Linked DNA regions of Homo sapiens: all the other regions are linked to region 2. Evidence: fine-mapped expression QTL. A gene starts in region 2. Each other region holds a variant in brackets. All regions are shown on one strand. Distances are between the middles of the regions. Region 1 overlaps ITIH5 (inter-alpha-trypsin inhibitor heavy chain 5). Region 2 holds the start of ITIH5 (inter-alpha-trypsin inhibitor heavy chain 5). Region 3 overlaps ITIH5 (inter-alpha-trypsin inhibitor heavy chain 5).

Region 1 (6,618 bases), 95 kb after region 2:
CCTACTCTGCACCCCACCAATGCTGTCCCATTTATTCCTCACACTCTAAAGTCTTAGAAGGACCTGGGTGTGGAGAAAGCATGCAGTTAGGATTCACCAACCCTCCTGACCAGCTGTGAGGCCTGAGGCAGGTTTCTCAACCTCTCTGAGCTTCCATTCCCACTCCCCAGCCCTGAACACGGAGATAATCATAATTTCCCTGCAGGGCTGTTGTAAGAACTAAATATGGAATGCCGTGGGCACACAGTGAGTTTTGCACAAATGTCAGACACGCCTTCCGTGGAGGCACGGAATACCAGAAATGTATTGAAAAGTTCGGACCCTGATAGCGAGGTTGCAATTGACATGGCTATTTCAGAAAGCGTGGAGCTTGTCTTGGCAAAACGTACACAATTTTTGTTGTGATTAAAAGCATGTGGCAGGATGCTATCACTTTCTACCTATGAGATCCATGCCACATCCAGGAAAAGTGGCTTTCTGAATAAGATCTTGATGCTAGGTCATCAGCGCAAATCTCCACAGCTTCAGGAGAGATCGGATCTGGACCATACAAGACTCGGGGGGCCAGAAAGACAGAGGAGGAGATAACCAACTGACTACTCGAAAGGGTTTTTTTTTGCTTTTTTTTTTTTTTTTTTTCCGAGATGGAGTCTCGCTCTTTCGCCCAAGCTGGAGTGCAGTGGTGCTATCTCGGCTCACTGCAAGCTCTGCCTCCCAGGTTCACGCTATTCTCCTGCCTCAGCCTCCCAAGTAGCTGGGACTACGGGTGCCCACCACCGCGCCCGGCTAATTTTTTGTATTTTTAGTAGAGATGGGGTTTCACCGTGTTAGCCAGGATGGTCTCAATCTCCTGACCTTGTGATCCGCCCACCTGGGCCTCCCAAAATGCTGGGATTACAGGCATGAGCCACTGCGCCCGGCCGGTTTTTTGTTTTTTGTTTTTTAAATGAAGATTCTTCCTTTCCTTAAAGCTCTGATGGTTTTTAAATTTAAATTTTAATTTTTTTGAGAGTTGGTGGCAGCTGCCACTCCTCAAATCAGTCATCCAGTCATCCATCCTCTTTCCTGGCTAATCTACATTCTGCCCAGATCACGCTGGTCAAGACCAGTATTGAGAAGGGAGTACTTCAAGAACCTTTAGATATCTCACTCTTTAATTTCTGTGAGCAATAAAAACCAGAGAAGAGGAGCACAATTTTACCTAGTACTAACAATTTGACGTAAGATATTGATTTTATTTATAGATATTAATTACTTTTAGGTTATTCTTTCATTGAATATTTATTCAAAGCACCAGTACTTTGAAATACAAAGTGTTTCAAAATCTTCTGCTTTGTAAATTCCGCCGCACACATAGCTACAGACACTGGATTATAACTGTACCTCTTTTATTACATTATTGTTTGTTTTTGTTTTTGTTGTGAACATAAAATTTACCACCTTACCCATTTTTAAGCGTACAGTTCAATGCTGGTAAGCGATGTTAGGTATATTCACACTGTTGTGAAACAGATCTCTAGAACTTTTCCATCTTGCACGTCTGAAATGCTACAGGCCCACTGAACAACAGCTCATTTCTCCCTTCCCCTATAAATACATCTCAAGTGTGATAAAATATTTTCCCCTATAATATACACAAAAATCACAGAAAAGAATAGTATCTAAATCATACAATAATTAAATAATTAATCCTACACACTTTACATTCCACTTGTGTAGTTTCTATTCTATTCTTTTTTTTCCTTTTTTTTTTTTTTTTTGAGACAGTCTCACTCTGTTAACCAGGCTGGAGTGCAGTGGTGCAGTCACAGCTCACTGCAGCCTTGATCTCCTGGGCTCAAGTGATCCTCCCACCTCAGCCTCCCAAGTAGCTGGGACTACAGATGTGTGCCACCTTGTTGGGTTAATTTTATTTATTTATTTTTTTTTTGTAGAGACAGGGTCTCACTATATTGCCCAGGCCGGTCTCGAACTCCTGGGCTCCAGTGATCCTCCCACCTTGGC[C/T]TCCGGAAGCACTGGGATTATGGACATGAGCCACCATGCCTGGCTCTGCTTGTGTGTTTTGAGGCCAAGCTCCCTTTTTAAGACTGATGATGTTTTAAAGGTCTTTTGATTATTTAAGCTGTTACAAACGTACCTAAAAGCTGTGTTTTGCTCATGTCTCCTCTCTCCCTTTGCACCTCTCTCTTCATCTTCTTTAAGGAATGACCATGATGTTCTCTTCCTTCTCCCTTTTAGGACCTTTGCTCAAGAAGCCATACCAGCCAAGAATTAAAATCTCTAAAACATCAGGTAAAGCAAAGGATGCGGTTGTGTGTGGATTGAGAGTAAGAGATGTTTAAAAAGTGTAAAACCAGGCCAGGTGTACTGGCTCACGCCTGTAATCCCAGCACTTTGGGAGGCCGAGGTGGGTGTATTGCTTGAGGTCAGGAGTTCAAGACCAGCCTGGCCAACATGGTGAAACCTCGTCTCTACTAAAAATACAAAAATTAGCCAGGCATGGTGGCAGGGGCCTGTAGTTCCAGCTACTGGGGAGGCTGAGGCAGGAGAATCACTTGAACCTGGGAAGTTGAGGTTACAGTGAGCCGAGATTGTGCCACCACACTCTAGCCTGGACTACAAGAGTGAAACTCTGTCTCAAAAAAAAAAAAAAAAAAAAAAAGTGTAAAACCAAGAATTCCTTGAAGCCAGTTAAAAATACCAGCTCATTCAGCAATGTATCAAGCCCACAGTGTGAGGCAGAGCCTGAGAAGTGCAGCTGTTATGAAACCATCCCATAAACACCATGGAGATAGCACAGTCCCCAGGAAGCCTGGCAGGAAACCCGATGAGGCTGCAGTGAGCTATATTGCACCACCCAATAGATGGGTGGCAGAGGCACATTCTGACCCTCATTGAGTTTAGAAGACATTTGTTTTAGAGATCCGGAGCATGCATCCTTCCAGCCTCTGCTATCATAAACATAAAATGGTGCTACCAAAATAAAAATGTCTGGTGTGACAGGCAGGCTTTGTTTTTGTTTTCATTTTTTTCAGTTCGTGGCTTCAGAAGGGAAGAACAGATTTTTTCAAATGTCATGAAATTTCCTTTTGCCAGCATCCTGGAACTATAATAAAAATTCAGAGGAAAGAACAACCTATGACTGGGTTTTGTTCTGCTGTGTCCAGATCATCCTCTGGAAGTCTTGATTGTTGCCTTTCTGCTGCTGTGCTGTACGTGCAAGTTCCTAAAGCCAGGGACATCCCGGAGATGAGCTGTGGATATAGAGTCCGCACAGCCTGCGGGAGACAGAATGTAATTCCTTCCAACACACACACACAGGCTTTATGGAATGCCAGAAAAGCTTCCTCTTGGATGCTGCCTGGAGTAATGACTTTTTGACCCTCCCCTCTTTTTTGGAGCAAGCACTATCTTTCCTTGTAAAGAAATTTGGACAATTTGAGTAGAAATGGTGTGGTATGTGCACATAGAAACTCTCAGAAAACTGTCAGATGAGCTAGACAGTTGTCCTCTATCTCCATGGGTCCCGCATCCCAAGGATCGAACCAACAACAGATCAAAAATACGTGAAAAAGGAATTGCATCTGTATTGAATGTGTACGGACTTTTTTTCTTGTCTTTGTTCCTTAAACAATGTAGTGTAACAACTATTTACATCGCATCTCCTTTGCATTCATTATTATAAGTAAACTAGAGATGATTTAAAGTGTATAGAAAGGCTGCGTGCAGTGGCTAATGTCTGTAATCCCAGCACTTTGAGAGGCCGAGGCAGGTGGATCACCTGAGGTCAGGAGTTCGAGACCAGCCTGGCCAACGTGGTGAAACCCCATCTCTACTAAAAATACAATAATTAGCTGGGCATGGTGGTGCACGCCTGTAATCCCAGCTATTCGGGAGGCTGAGGCAGGAGAATCGCTTGAACCCAGGAGGCAGAGATTGCAGTGAACCGAGATTGCACCATTGCACTCCAGCCTGGGTGACAGAGTGAACCTCCGTCTCAAAAACAAAATAAATAAATAAGAATAAATTAAAAATAAAGTGTATGGAAGGCTGTGCGAAGGTTGTATACAGATACTACACTATTGTATGTCATGGACTTGAGGACGCGTGGATTTTAGTATCCGCGGGGGTCCTGGAACTAATCCCCCATGGACACCAAGAGACAACTGCGTGCATGCCTGAAAAATGCCAGCAATGTGGATGAGAACTTTGATCTCCTCTGGGGGTCAGTTTTTCCCCATCAGCAAAAGACCAGCACCTTGAATTTCTTCATATGTTGCAATTTTCAGGGAAGTTGAGGCACTTCCCAGGGAGAGCAGCCAGATCCTCTCAAGGGCCCGTGTCAGGGATGCTGGGGCAGAAAGGGTTTCTCAGCAGTCAATGCAGGGATGTTAGTTTGCTGCAGCTTAAAAAGAGTGGACTCTGCCTGGCCCCTGCCTACACCGTGCACAGCGTGCATGCAGACATGTCCATGTGCACAGAAGGCAGAGGGGCATTTGAGAAACAAGTTGTAGGCCGGTGTGGTGGCTCACGCCTGAAATCCCAGCACTTTGGGAGGCTGAGGTGGGTGGAATGCTTGAGCCCAGGAGTTTGAGACCAGCCTGGGCAACATAGTGAGACCCTGTCCCTACAAAAAATAAAAAATTAGCCTGGCATGGTGGCACGTGCCTGTAGTCCCAGCTACTCAGGAGGCTGAGGTGGGAGGACCGTTTGAGCCCAGGAGTTTGAGGCTGCAGTGAGCTCTGATTGCACCACTGTACTCCAGCCTGGTCAACAGAGTGGGACCCTGTCTCAAAAATAAATAAAATAAACAAATTGCACTTGGAATATAAATTAGAGAGAAGGTAAATCTCCAATCTGGTAAGAGAATTGATATAGATTCTCAAGAAATCTTCTGTCTGTATAATAAAAGGCAAGGCTGTTCACCTTTAACAGAGGTGAAAATGAGGAGAACAGATAAGAACTGTCAGCTGAACTTTGCGGTCTCATCTGTGGACAGAAATTTCAGAGCAGTGAAGTCGGAGTGACCCAAAGGAGGGGTTTCCGCCAGCACCCTGACTGTGCGCCTGGCCGCCTACTCGCATTTTGCTTCCCTTGCCTCTGCATCTAAGCTGGGCATGGCTCTCAGTGCCTGCGTGCAGGGGTGGCGTACAGCTGACGCTGCGAATGAGCCTGGGGTAGCCCATGGCTTCCTGGGAGAAGAAGCACCATAGATCTCCCATCATAGGGAGGAAAGTCCTCTGCATCTGTGCCATTAAAGGAGAAAGCAAATAGCAAGGGATGTCCCCCTGGGAAATGGAAGCATGGGGGCTGAGTACCAGTTGAAGGTGTGTGGGGATCTCTCTTTCCTTCTCCTCTCACCTCTCAAAGCTTAGTTGTCTAGACTGAGCTGAGGTGTGTTGAAAGGAGCATTATATTGGAATTTAGAAGACCTGAAGTCAAATGTTTACTGCAAACTCACTGGGTAATTCTGGGGAGTTGTTTCCCTCCCACTCATCTTCCTCATCTGGAAATTGAGGACACCTCCTTCCAGAATAGTTTTCAGGATTCAATAAAATAATTCATGAGAAAATAGAGAGTAGCACCTACACAAGGAAGGTACTGAATAAGTGTCTTTCTTTTTCTCTCCGTTTTCTTCTGCTCTGGCAGTGGATGGTGATCCCCACTTTGTTGTGGATTTCCCCCTGAGCAGACTCACCGTGTGCTTCAACATTGATGGGCAGCCCGGGGACATCCTCAGGCTGGTCTCTGATCACAGGGACTCTGGTAAGTTCTACCTTCCGCTGCAGCATCTGGGCAAGGACCAGGTAGGTACTGCATCCCCCTCTGTTCTTCAGATGGATGTCCAGTGATCCAAGGGCCACCTTACAGACGCTCAGTGAGTATCGTCAGTGGTTAAGGGAAGCGCACTGCGCTCCTGGACTTATGCATCCGACTCCCTGCTTTATGACAAGTGCCGTGTGACCTTGGGCACATGCCTTGGGAGTTGTTTCCCTTGTAAAATGGAGATAGGAACACTCTCTTGGCCTCACAGAGCTAATATAAAATGGATCAAATGAAACTGGTTATGAAGTTGTTTTTTAAATGCTGAAGTGCTTTAGAAATCCGCTATGTAGGCTGGGCGCGGTGGCTCATGCCTGTAATCCCAGCACTTTGGGAGGCCGAGGCAGGTGGATCACCGGAGGTCAGGAGTTCAAGACCAGCTTGGCCAACATGGTGAAACCCCATCTCTACTAAAGTTACAAAAAAATTAGCCCGGCATAGTGGTGGGCACCTGAAATCCCAGCTACTCGGGAGGCTGAGGCAGGAGAATCGCTTGAACCTGGGAGGCAGAGGTTGCAGTGAGCTGAGATCATGCCACTGCACTCCAGCCTGGGTGAAAAGAGCAAGACTCTATCTCAAAAAAAAAAAAAAAAAAAAAAAGAAAAAGAAAAAAAGAAAAGAAAACCACAATATATTATTGTGTATTATTGTCATAGTGTCTATCCATTCAAAAGCTGTGATGCCGGGGAGGCCAAGGTTCTAAACTCATGTCAGTTTCTTGATGACTTACATGGGATGTCACATGTTAATCCACAGTTCTGTCTGTGTGCCGTGAACATGTATGGACAAAGGGGC
Region 2 (5,000 bases):
ACACCTACCTAGATTTTAAAGATCATCATAGAGATACACAGGTGTCACATAGAATACTGAACTATTACAGCTTGAAAATAATAGGAAGTTCAGAAACTCTGTCAAGTCATACAGCTAGGTAGCGGTCAAGTTTGCACTATAGCCCAGCCCCACCTCCCTGGCACAGCCTGGCTCTACCATCCACACTCATTCCTCCCATCTACTAATCTCATTCATCAAAAGGTCCTTAAGTGCTAACAATATATTTAGCACAGTTCTAGAAGTTGGGGGAGAGGCTTGTCCTCAAAGAACAGATCCAGTTGGAGAAACTGGCTTTATATTAAACAAACAACACATTAGAACCACAGTCTAGGGTAGAATCAGAGGGTCCTCCCAGATGAAAATAAAACTCACTTTTCTTAACATTAGACTGCTGTAAAACCCAGTTAGTATGAATTTGGGAAAAAAAAAGAGATCAGATATAAAGGCAAAAATAGTTTAATATGGGCCCTTTCAGCATTTCAAGTTAGGGATGGCAGGGAAGGAAAGACGATGGAGTCTCTGTTCTGTTGCAATCATGGGTTGAAATAATGGCCGCTGTATGGTTCCCTATTGCAAATAAACTGGCTTTGTCCAATTCAACTTCTGGTTCACAAATAGTTACTTTCCTCTGGAGGGAAAAATAACCGGCTACAGTTGTTTCTTATTGGTTGCATGCTGACTAGTGGTTAGGCTATTAAAGGATTAACTGCTGATGACAATAATTTTCCTTTCATTTATTTCACAGTAGCAAGGTGTTTGTTTTTAACCTCTCCTAATTCATTAAACAAAGAGCATTTCAACAAGAATAGATATTTTCGAGGATCTCACCACAAACTAACCTACCCACTGCTTTTATTTTTCATGTTTTTTTTTTCTAGTTATGTCCCTCCATATGTATTTCTACCTAATTGCAATCATACTGTTGATACGATTTGGTGATGTGATTTTCTCTTTAGATTACACTGTCAACATTCTCCATGTTTCTGGAGACGTCGCACGATTATTTAATGGCCCCATAGTAACCTGCATGGAATAGTATTCTCTATTCCATGGTCCGAAGTTAGCCCCTTCCCTGTTCTTGGTCCTTAAAGGGTCTGTCACTCACCTCACCTATTTAGATGAAATTATCACAGAGACATAAAAAACATCCTTTGCAACATGAAATAAACAAGTAGCCCCAACTGCAATGTGTATCACCAGATAAAAAAGACGCACTCAGCCTGTAGAAGGCCAGGTGTGGACGGCTGGTGGGTAAGAATTCTTCCAATGGCAGGATGGAAGTATCACCAATAGTTTGTAACTAAGATACATACTGGCACTCACTTACATGATTAATAACCAGAAACTCAGAAATACTACACGCTACCAAGATACTTCCCTCGTCTCCTCTGTTTCCTTAGAACATAAAGGCTGGCAGCCTTGCTAGTCCCTCCTGCGCTAGACTGCAGGTAGTATCCTTTGTCCTGCCTATTAAGCGTCCCTGGCCAATGCAGAGGGGACGATCTGCCGGCTTCAGGCTGGCAGGTGCGGGGTGGGCTGTGTGCTGAGGACCAGGCTGGCCTTCTCGCGTCCTCTGGCGACAGAAATTAAGCAAGTCCGCAAAGAAGCATATTGCACCTTGAGGGAGAGGAAGAAAGAGTTGCGGGGGCGCGTGGGGTAGGGCCCGGGAGGCAGTGGGTGTTGGCAAGAAACGGAGTAGGAGGCTCTACAGAGGAGACTGGTCCTTGGTTAAGTGTCACAGCCGCAGGATGGGAGGGTGTGGGAGGGGTCCGTGGGGCCAACACAGGTGGCCCCTGCTGTGCGCGGCGAGGCAGGCTTGGAATGCCTTCTCCCCGAACAGAGCTAGCCCAGCACTGGGGGCTGGAGGCGCGGCTCTGGTGGGACTGAGGCCGGGAAGCGGCGCCGGGCGGGGTGGGGACTGGGGAGGAGGCGGGGCTGGTGTGGGGGCCACAGGGAGGCGGGCCGGGTTTAAGGGGGTGGCTGTAGGTGGGGTCTGGGAAGTTGGCCTCGGTGGGGACAGGGACAGGAGAGGTGGGGCCGGGACTGGGGAGGTGGGGGGAAATGGGGGCGTGGAGAAACGGAGCTTGGGGTTGGGGACCTGGGGAAGCTGGGTCCTGACTGGGGACAGGGAGGCGAGGCCGGGCTTGGGGGGTGTCCAGGGAGGCAGGGTGTGGGAAGGTCTGGGGCGGGGAAGTGGGGTCTGGGCTGGGGTGGGAGAGTTGGAGTCCAGAAGGGGACCGCGGGGTGGAAGGGGTCCGGGCTGGGACCGGGGTAGGCGGAGTCCAGGAGGGGACGCAGGGTGGGCGGGGTCCGGGCTGGGTCCGTGGGGTGGGCGGGGTCCGGGCTGGGACGCGGGGTGGGCGGGGTCCGGGCTGGGTCCGTGGGGTGGGCGGGGTCCGGGCTGGGTCCGTGGGGTGGGCGGAGTCCAGGAGGGGACCGCAGGGTGGGCGGGGTCCGGGCTGGGTCCGTGGGGTGGGCGGGGTCCGGGCTGGGTCCGTGGGGTGGGCGGGGTCCGGGCTGGGACCGCGGGGTGGGCGGGGTCCGGGCTGGGTCCGTGGGGTGGGCGGGGTCCGGGCTGGGACCGCGGGGTGGGCGGCCCCGAGAGCGTCCCGCAGTGGCTGGAGCCCTGGGCGCTGCAAAGCGTGTCCCGCCGGGTCCCCGAGCGTCCCGCGCCCTCGCCCCGCCATGCTCCTGCTGCTGGGGCTGTGCCTGGGGCTGTCCCTGTGTGTGGGGTCGCAGGAAGAGGCGCAGAGCTGGGGCCACTCTTCGGAGCAGGTAAGTGGAGCCGAGGGGAGCCGGGTCCCGGGCGCGGCCGCCCCCTTCCCTCCGCCGGCCCGGCCGCGGAGCTTCTGCCCGGGCCCCCTTCGACCGTCTCCCAGGCCCCCACCAGAGGCCCAGGGGTCCCTCTCTGTGGGTCACTCGTGCGTCACCTCTGTGTGAGCCGCGGTGCCTGATCTGGCCTGAGGCTTCCTGCAGAACTGTGCCCGGGACTTGTCCTGCGGAGCCGAGTTTTTCTTCTTGGCTCCTGTTGATTGCGCAGATTTCTGTTCGTCGTTGTTAATTTCTGAGGTAGCTCCAAAAGTTATTATAATTACAAGGTTTTTTCCTTATCACGCGTGGGGGGCAGTCTGCTGTTATCATCATTCCCAGTTGATCCAGGGAGAAAGGCAATATGAGAGGAGTTCTAGACTCCTGGGAGCCTCAGCTTTTCCCACCTGAAAACCGGGAGAACACGACTTTCCCATTTAGCGACTACCTACCGGTGGTTTAGCATTTAAAGGTGGCACCGAGAGCCAAAGCGTCTGAGTTCCTCGAGTTGCTGGTCTGTGCGTTTGTCAGGATTTGTGTTTCAAATGTCTTAACCTCGCAGGCGAATAAAACCTGCAAATATGAAATGTCAATAAAATGATGAATAGAGCATTTTTGTCTTTAAAAAGTATGAAGCGGGTTCACACAAATAGCATTGAGAGCTAATGTGCAACATGGCCCTGTCACAAAGTAGAAGTGCTTTCACACACATGCCATTTAAATATTTAAGCCGTTTAGCTTCCAGCGTGTTTGTGCACGGTGGGAGGAAGATACAAGTAGGCGGACCTTTTCTCCCTTTTCCAGCCCCTGTTTTGAAGAGCAGTTTTGAAGCCCAACTGCCTAAATATGAAGACAGTTATCTTCATGTTCTCTGTCCTGTGAATGTGCTTAACAGTAAAGTGGTAGTAATGATACTTCCTTCTAGGGGGGGAGTAGCTAATAAAATCCCAGGAGGCATCGTAGTGATGTTGGAAAAGTGCAGGCTTTGGATGCAGAGACAGGCTGGGCTTTAGTTGTGTGTTCCGGGCAAGCCCTTTAATCTCTCAGAGCCTTCATGTCCTCGTTGGTCAGGGCAGGGAATGCGGCTCTTTTTGAGCAAACTTGCAAGGACTCAGCTAATTTGTGTTAAGCACCTGGTATACAGTGGACGCTCAATAACTGGGAGATGTTTTAGTAGATGGCTGAAGGCATGGGCTTGGTACCAGGATGTCTGGGACCACTTGATTCTTGATTCTGTCACTTATCAGCTCTGGGACCCTGATCAAGTGCCTTTCGGCCTTATATTCCTCTTCTGTGAAATGTGGAGAAATGATAGGGTTGTGAGGACTGAATGCATTATGACACCCAAGTGCTTAAAACACTGTCAGCACTTAATGCTGGCCATGGTCTTAGACTCATGCTGCTGACATGCTGAGTGAAGGAATTTAGGGTAAAGATCTTGAAACTTTTTTGGGGGTGTGGAGACAGGACAGTGTGGGATGGACTGAAACAAAGATTCTGTGTCTGAACTAGGAAGGCTGTTTAAACTCTAGCATATACCAAGTTCAAGTAGGCTTCACAGTCTATGGACTTGCTGTCATAAAAAAACATGGCTTGACCTCTTTTAGTGATTTCATGCTGTCTTCAACCCAGCACAATATTTATTTATCTTGAAAATGACTAAATCAGGAAAAAAAATCCAAGGTATAAAGTTCTATGAACTTGCAATTTTACCTTTTATCCCTAATCCGTTCTTTTTTATATTTAGTTTTTGTGATATAGGGTTTGAGAGCATAGGCTTTAGCACCAGAATTCTGGGTTCAAATCTTGGCTCTGCACTTACTGAGGAGTTACTTAACGTTTGTGAGCCTCTATCTCTGTATGGGGATGATGCAATTACTTAGGATTTTGAAAAGTGAAACAATTAATATACTTAAATCTTAGAACAGAACCTGGGAATGTAATGAGCACTCTATTCTCAATCATTATGGTCTTTAAAATTGTATGTAAACTTAATTTGAAAAATGTAAGTCTATGCAAATCTTATGCAAATTTTAATATAGCTGAATATGACTATTAACTTGCATTGCAGTTATTTGTCATTCACCTGTAATTGGAAATATACCAGTAACACCTTAGATTCAAGTTCCTTCACCTCTCACCCTTCACCCCATCTGTAGACAGTGGGTACT
Region 3 (5,000 bases), 86 kb after region 2:
CGCCTGTAGTCCCAGCTACTGGGGAGGCTGAGGCAGGAGAATTGCATGAACCTGGGAGGCGGAGGTTGTAGTGAGCCGAGATCGCACCACTGCACTCCAGCCCCGGTGACAGAGTGAAATTCTGTTTCAAAAACAAACAAACAAAAGAAAGGCAAATTAGTGATTCCAATAAAATGTAAAATAACTTTCTTTCCATTTGGGCTCTGCATCTTAGCAAGAATTATGAACATTTGGTCATGGACATAGCCTTATCTACTTTTTTAGCTAGAAAATCTGGAGGATGTTAAGCCGTGGGGGAGATGATCTGGTTCTCTCAGATGCGGTACATTTTAATTTTAATTTTTAATTTTTGTGGGTCCAGAGTAGGTATATGTGTTTATGGGGTATATGAGGTATTTTGATACAGGCATACATTGTGTGATAATTACATCAGATAAATGAGATATCCATCACCTCAAGCATTTGTCCTTTGTTACAAACAATCCAATTATACTCAGTTATTTTTAAGTGTATCATGAAATTATTATTGAATATAATCACCCTGTTGCACTACCAAGTACTAGATCGTCTTCATTCTTTCTAACTTCTTTTTGTACCCATTAACTATCCCTACTTCTGCCCCACCCCCCACTACCCTGCCCAGCCTCTGGAAACCATCCTTCTACTCTTTATCTCCATAAGTTCAATCGTTTTAATTTTTAGCTGCCACAAATAAGCGAGAACATGGGAAGATGGTCTTTCTGTGCCTGGCTTAATTCACTGAATATAATGAGCTCCAGTTCCATCCATCTTGTTGCAGATGACAAGATCTCATTCTTTTTTGTGGCTGAATAGTGCCCCATGGTATATATGTACCACAAATGTGGTAAAATTTGCAGGTAGAGAAAAGTCACTCCAGTCAGGATGATGGATGGTGGTGATGGTCATCAAACTCTAAATTTACTACAAATCATGAATTGGACACTTAGAATGGGTGATCTTTTGGTATGTAGATTTTATCTTAAGCCATTTTAAAAAAAAAACAAAGGAAATAGGTGTTCACACTACAGTAAGGTCTCTGCTTTACTTGGTAATGGTGGGATGTTGGTAGCTTAGTCCAGTGGAATTCTTAGCTAACCCAGAAACCTCACTGTAGCTGGGGTTTCAACCTCAACCACCCAACCACCTGTCTCCCCATCCACCAAACAAATACTTGTTCAGCTCCTATCAAAGACACAGGCCCCAACTTTATTTATTTATTTTGCTCCCAAACTTAAATTGTCTGATTTATTTTAATCATAAAGTAGTAAATTTAAGAATACATGGGGCCAGGTGCTGTGGCCCCTGCCAGTAATCCCAGCACTTTGGAGGCCGAGGCGGGCAGATCACAAGGTCAGGAAATCAAGACCAGCCTGGCCAACATGGTGAAACCCGTCTCTACTAAAAAAGTACAAAAATTAGCCAGGCATGGTGGCGTGTGCCTGTAATCCCAGCTACTCGGGAGGCTGAGGCAGGAGAATTGCTTGAACACAGGAGGCAGAGGTTGCAGTGAGCCAAGATCACGCCACTGCATTCCACCTTGGGCGAAAGAGCATGACTATATCTCAAAAAAAAAAAAAAAAAAAAAAATACATGGGTGGCCGGGCATGGTGGCTCATGCCTGTAGTCCCAGCACTTTGGGAGGTTGAGGTGGGAGAACTGCTTGAGCCCAGGAGTTCGAGACCAGCCTGGGCAACATAGTGAGACCCTGTCTCTAAAAAAAAAAAAAAAAAAAAAAAGAAGGAAAAGAAAAGAAAACATGGGAACATTCTTTTTAAAGGAAGCAGTAACCTGTAGTGTAACATACATGCAGAAAAATGTACATGTAGTAAGTGTACAACTTGATATGTTTTCATAAACTGAACAGAACCTGGACCCAGATCAAGAAACAGAACATTTAGAACTCCAGAAGCCTGCTCATGTTCTCACACCATTTTTTCCATGGAAGTATCTATTCTAAAACATTTGAGGAATAAAGAAAATCATCAAAAGAAAAAAAGGAGAGAAAAACCTCCTGCTGTCCACAGATGCCTGCTAATGTCATTGGTGTTTATTGTTCCATCATTTCTCAGAGTTGAGATTTGTTTTCTGTTTCGTATGGTTTTTCTAAGCCACATATTCCTGATAAAATTTTTCTTCCCTTTCGCCCCCAACTTTATTTTATTTATTCATTTATTTATTTTATTTTTATTTTTTCTGTTGAGACCGCGTCTCACTCTGTTTCCCAGGCTGGAGTGCAATGGCACGATCTTGGCTCACTGCAACTTCCGTCTTCTGGGTTCAAGTGATTTTCTGACCTTAGCCATCCGAGTAGCTGGGATTACAGGCATGTACCACCATGCCCGGCTAATTTTTGTATTTTTGGTAGAGACAGGGTTTTGCCATGTTAGCGAGGCTGGTCTCGAACTCCTGACCTCAGGTGATCCACCCACCTTGGCCTCCCAGAGTGCTGGGATTACAGGCATGAGCCACCGTGCCTGGCTGGCCTCCAACTTTAATCAGAGCTGTTGCTGACAAGGGCCTCTGAAGGAAAAAGGGTGGCCAGGAGGAGAAATATTTCATGGCTCCTTTCTCTGTGGGGTTCTGGCAAGCAGAGGTGATCTGAAGGGACAGGAAGCAAAGAAAGGAGAGACGATGAAGGCAACAAATTCATTCTTTCATCAGCTCCACCTAGCCCTAGACAACACTGGAAGGCATCTGAGATGTCAGCAGCTACCCTCCTCCTCTTCGTTCCATGCCCCTCCTCCCCTCTGCGGCTCTTTCTCCCTCCACATTCCTGCTGTCTTCTATGCTCAACACCTTCCTGCTCTTTTCAAAGCCATTCTCAGAAGAGGGCACAGAAGCCATTGAAGCTCAGGTAAGCTAAGGCGTCGCCACATGCCTTCTGGAGAAGGTTT[G/T]TTACAGTGGGATAATCCCCATTCACTTATATGCATTTAGTAAATGCACTTGCTTTTAGCAAGTTTCTGGATGGCCCCTTAACACCTCACTCCTGTGAGCATTTGGGTGGTTGAGCGTGAACTGCAGCTATGAAAGTGCATTCAGGCTGGGCATGGTGGCTCATGCCTGTGATTCCAGCACTTTGGGAGGCCAAGGTGGGCGGATTACTTGAGGTCAGGAGTTTGAGACCAGCCTGGCCAACATGGTCAATCCCATCTCTACTAAAAATACAAAAATTAGCCAGATGTGGTGGTGTGCACCTGTAATCCCAGCTACTCGGGAGGCTGAGGCGGGAGAATCGCTTGAACCTGGGAGGCGGAGGTTGCAGTGAGTGCAGATTGCGCCATTGCACTCCAGCCTGGGTGACAGAGCAAGACTCCGTCTCAAAAAAAAGAAAGTGCAATCAGAGTGCGGAGGTGAGTGCAGAGGCTTGAGCTGTTCCGTGTTGGTGTCCTGCAGGCACAGACATCAACGGGGCCCTGCAGAGGGCCATCAGGCTCCTCAACAAGTACGTGGCCCACAGTGGCATTGGAGACCGGAGCGTGTCCCTCATCGTCTTCCTGACGGATGGGAAGCCCACGGTCGGGGAGACGCACACCCTCAAGATCCTCAACAACACCCGAGAGGCCGCCCGAGGCCAAGTCTGCATCTTCACCATTGGCATCGGCAACGACGTGGACTTCAGGCTGCTGGAGAAACTGTCGCTGGAGAACTGTGGCCTCACACGGCGCGTGCACGAGGAGGAGGACGCAGGCTCGCAGCTCATCGGGTCTGTGGTCTGTCTTCGTAGGCATGAGAGGCTGTTTGAGGGGCTGAGGGGTGGCTGCGGTGGGAATTCAGAGAGGAGTGTGTTGCTGCACCCCAGCCTTGCATCTGCTGACAACGATCATAGCTCATTGCAATGGGAGGTGTCACCATGTGTTTTGAAACTAGGCAGATCAGAGTTCGAATTCTGATCCTCCTTTATGACTTTAGGCAAGATTTTTTTTTTTTTTCTTGTGATGGAGTTTCGCTCTTGTTGCCCAGGCTGCAATGCAATGGCGTGATCTCAGCTCACTGCAACCTCTGCTTCCTGGGTTCAAGCAATTCTCTTGCCTCAGCCTCCTGAGTAGCTGGGACTACAGTCACACACCACCACGCCTGGCTAATTTTGTATTTTTAGTAGAGACAAGGTTTCTCCATGTTGGTCAGGCTGGTCTCGAACTCCTGACCTCAGGTGATCTGCCCGCCTTGGCCTCCCAAAGTACTGGGATTATGGGCGTGAGCCACCACACCCGGCCCTAAGCAAGATTTTAAGACAGTCTGTACCTCCGTTTTCTCATCTGTAAAATGAGGATTATGGTTGGTTGCAGAATTTAATGAGAAAATCGCTATATAAAAACACTATGTATAGCACTGGCACAGTGGCCATCCCATATTAAGTATTTAATGAGCTCTCATAGTTCATTGACATCCTGATATTTCAAAGCACTTTCTAGTAAGTTTACTTTTATTCTACCCTGTGAGCAAGTAGCAGAGTACTGTTATGTTCATTTTGAGTACTAGTTAAAAGATACTTTTATTTGGAAGCAAAACCATCAGATAAAACTGTTAAATAATCAGATTATTTTGAGGTGGAGAATAAATGAGATCTTTTAAATGAGAGATGGAGAAAACTCAGATCTTTTAAAACAGAAATAGCTTCCCTCCGATATTATGTTGCCACGCATCAGTCTGCTCCTTTGCTGTTCATTGAGTGAAGTGCCAGCTCCCAGTTCAGCGTGAGGTGCTTTAATCTGCATCGTGGCATATGTGGTATCTACTTAAAAGCAAAGGGGAGGTTTGGGTAGATTTATAGGTGTTTAATAGCCATAGTCAAAGCACATTTATTAATGATAAATGGAAATGGAGACACCTAAGGTGTGCAGTAAAGACAGGTCCTCGGTTTGGGATTCGCCACCGTTTCCTCCCACGCATTTTAATGAAAGATTTAAATGAAAACACAGATTTGCTTTCCACATTTTAAAAATTATTCAAAACTAGAGTCAAAGGGGAGAATCTGATAC

Evidence for each region. PIP is the estimated chance that this variant, and not a neighbour inherited with it, causes the effect. A credible set is the group of variants that fine-mapping cannot tell apart.
Region 1: its variant is the best candidate, but not a certain one, in a credible set for the expression of ITIH5 in lung (TOPMed, PIP 0.58).
Region 3: its variant is the best candidate, but not a certain one, in a credible set for the expression of ITIH5 in tibial nerve (GTEx, PIP 0.57).

Annotation. Positions count from the first base shown.
Region 1 is chr10:7,568,816-7,575,433 of GRCh38, reverse strand. It overlaps ITIH5 (inter-alpha-trypsin inhibitor heavy chain 5), which reads left to right. Exons shown (of 14, transcript NM_030569.7): 11 at 2,239-2,292; 12 at 5,650-5,766. Among named protein-coding and RNA genes, the nearest start is that of ITIH5, 95 kb to the left of the region's middle. The variant C/T (reference allele first, on the strand shown) is at 2,005.
Region 2 is chr10:7,664,599-7,669,598 of GRCh38, reverse strand. It overlaps ITIH5 (inter-alpha-trypsin inhibitor heavy chain 5), which reads left to right and starts at 2,633. Exons shown (of 14, transcript NM_030569.7): 1 at 2,633-2,796. The coding sequence starts at 2,707.
Region 3 is chr10:7,578,479-7,583,478 of GRCh38, reverse strand. ITIH5 (inter-alpha-trypsin inhibitor heavy chain 5) reads left to right here. Exons shown (of 14, transcript NM_030569.7): 9 at 3,415-3,724. Among named protein-coding and RNA genes, the nearest start is that of ITIH5, 86 kb to the left of the region's middle. The variant G/T (reference allele first, on the strand shown) is at 2,916.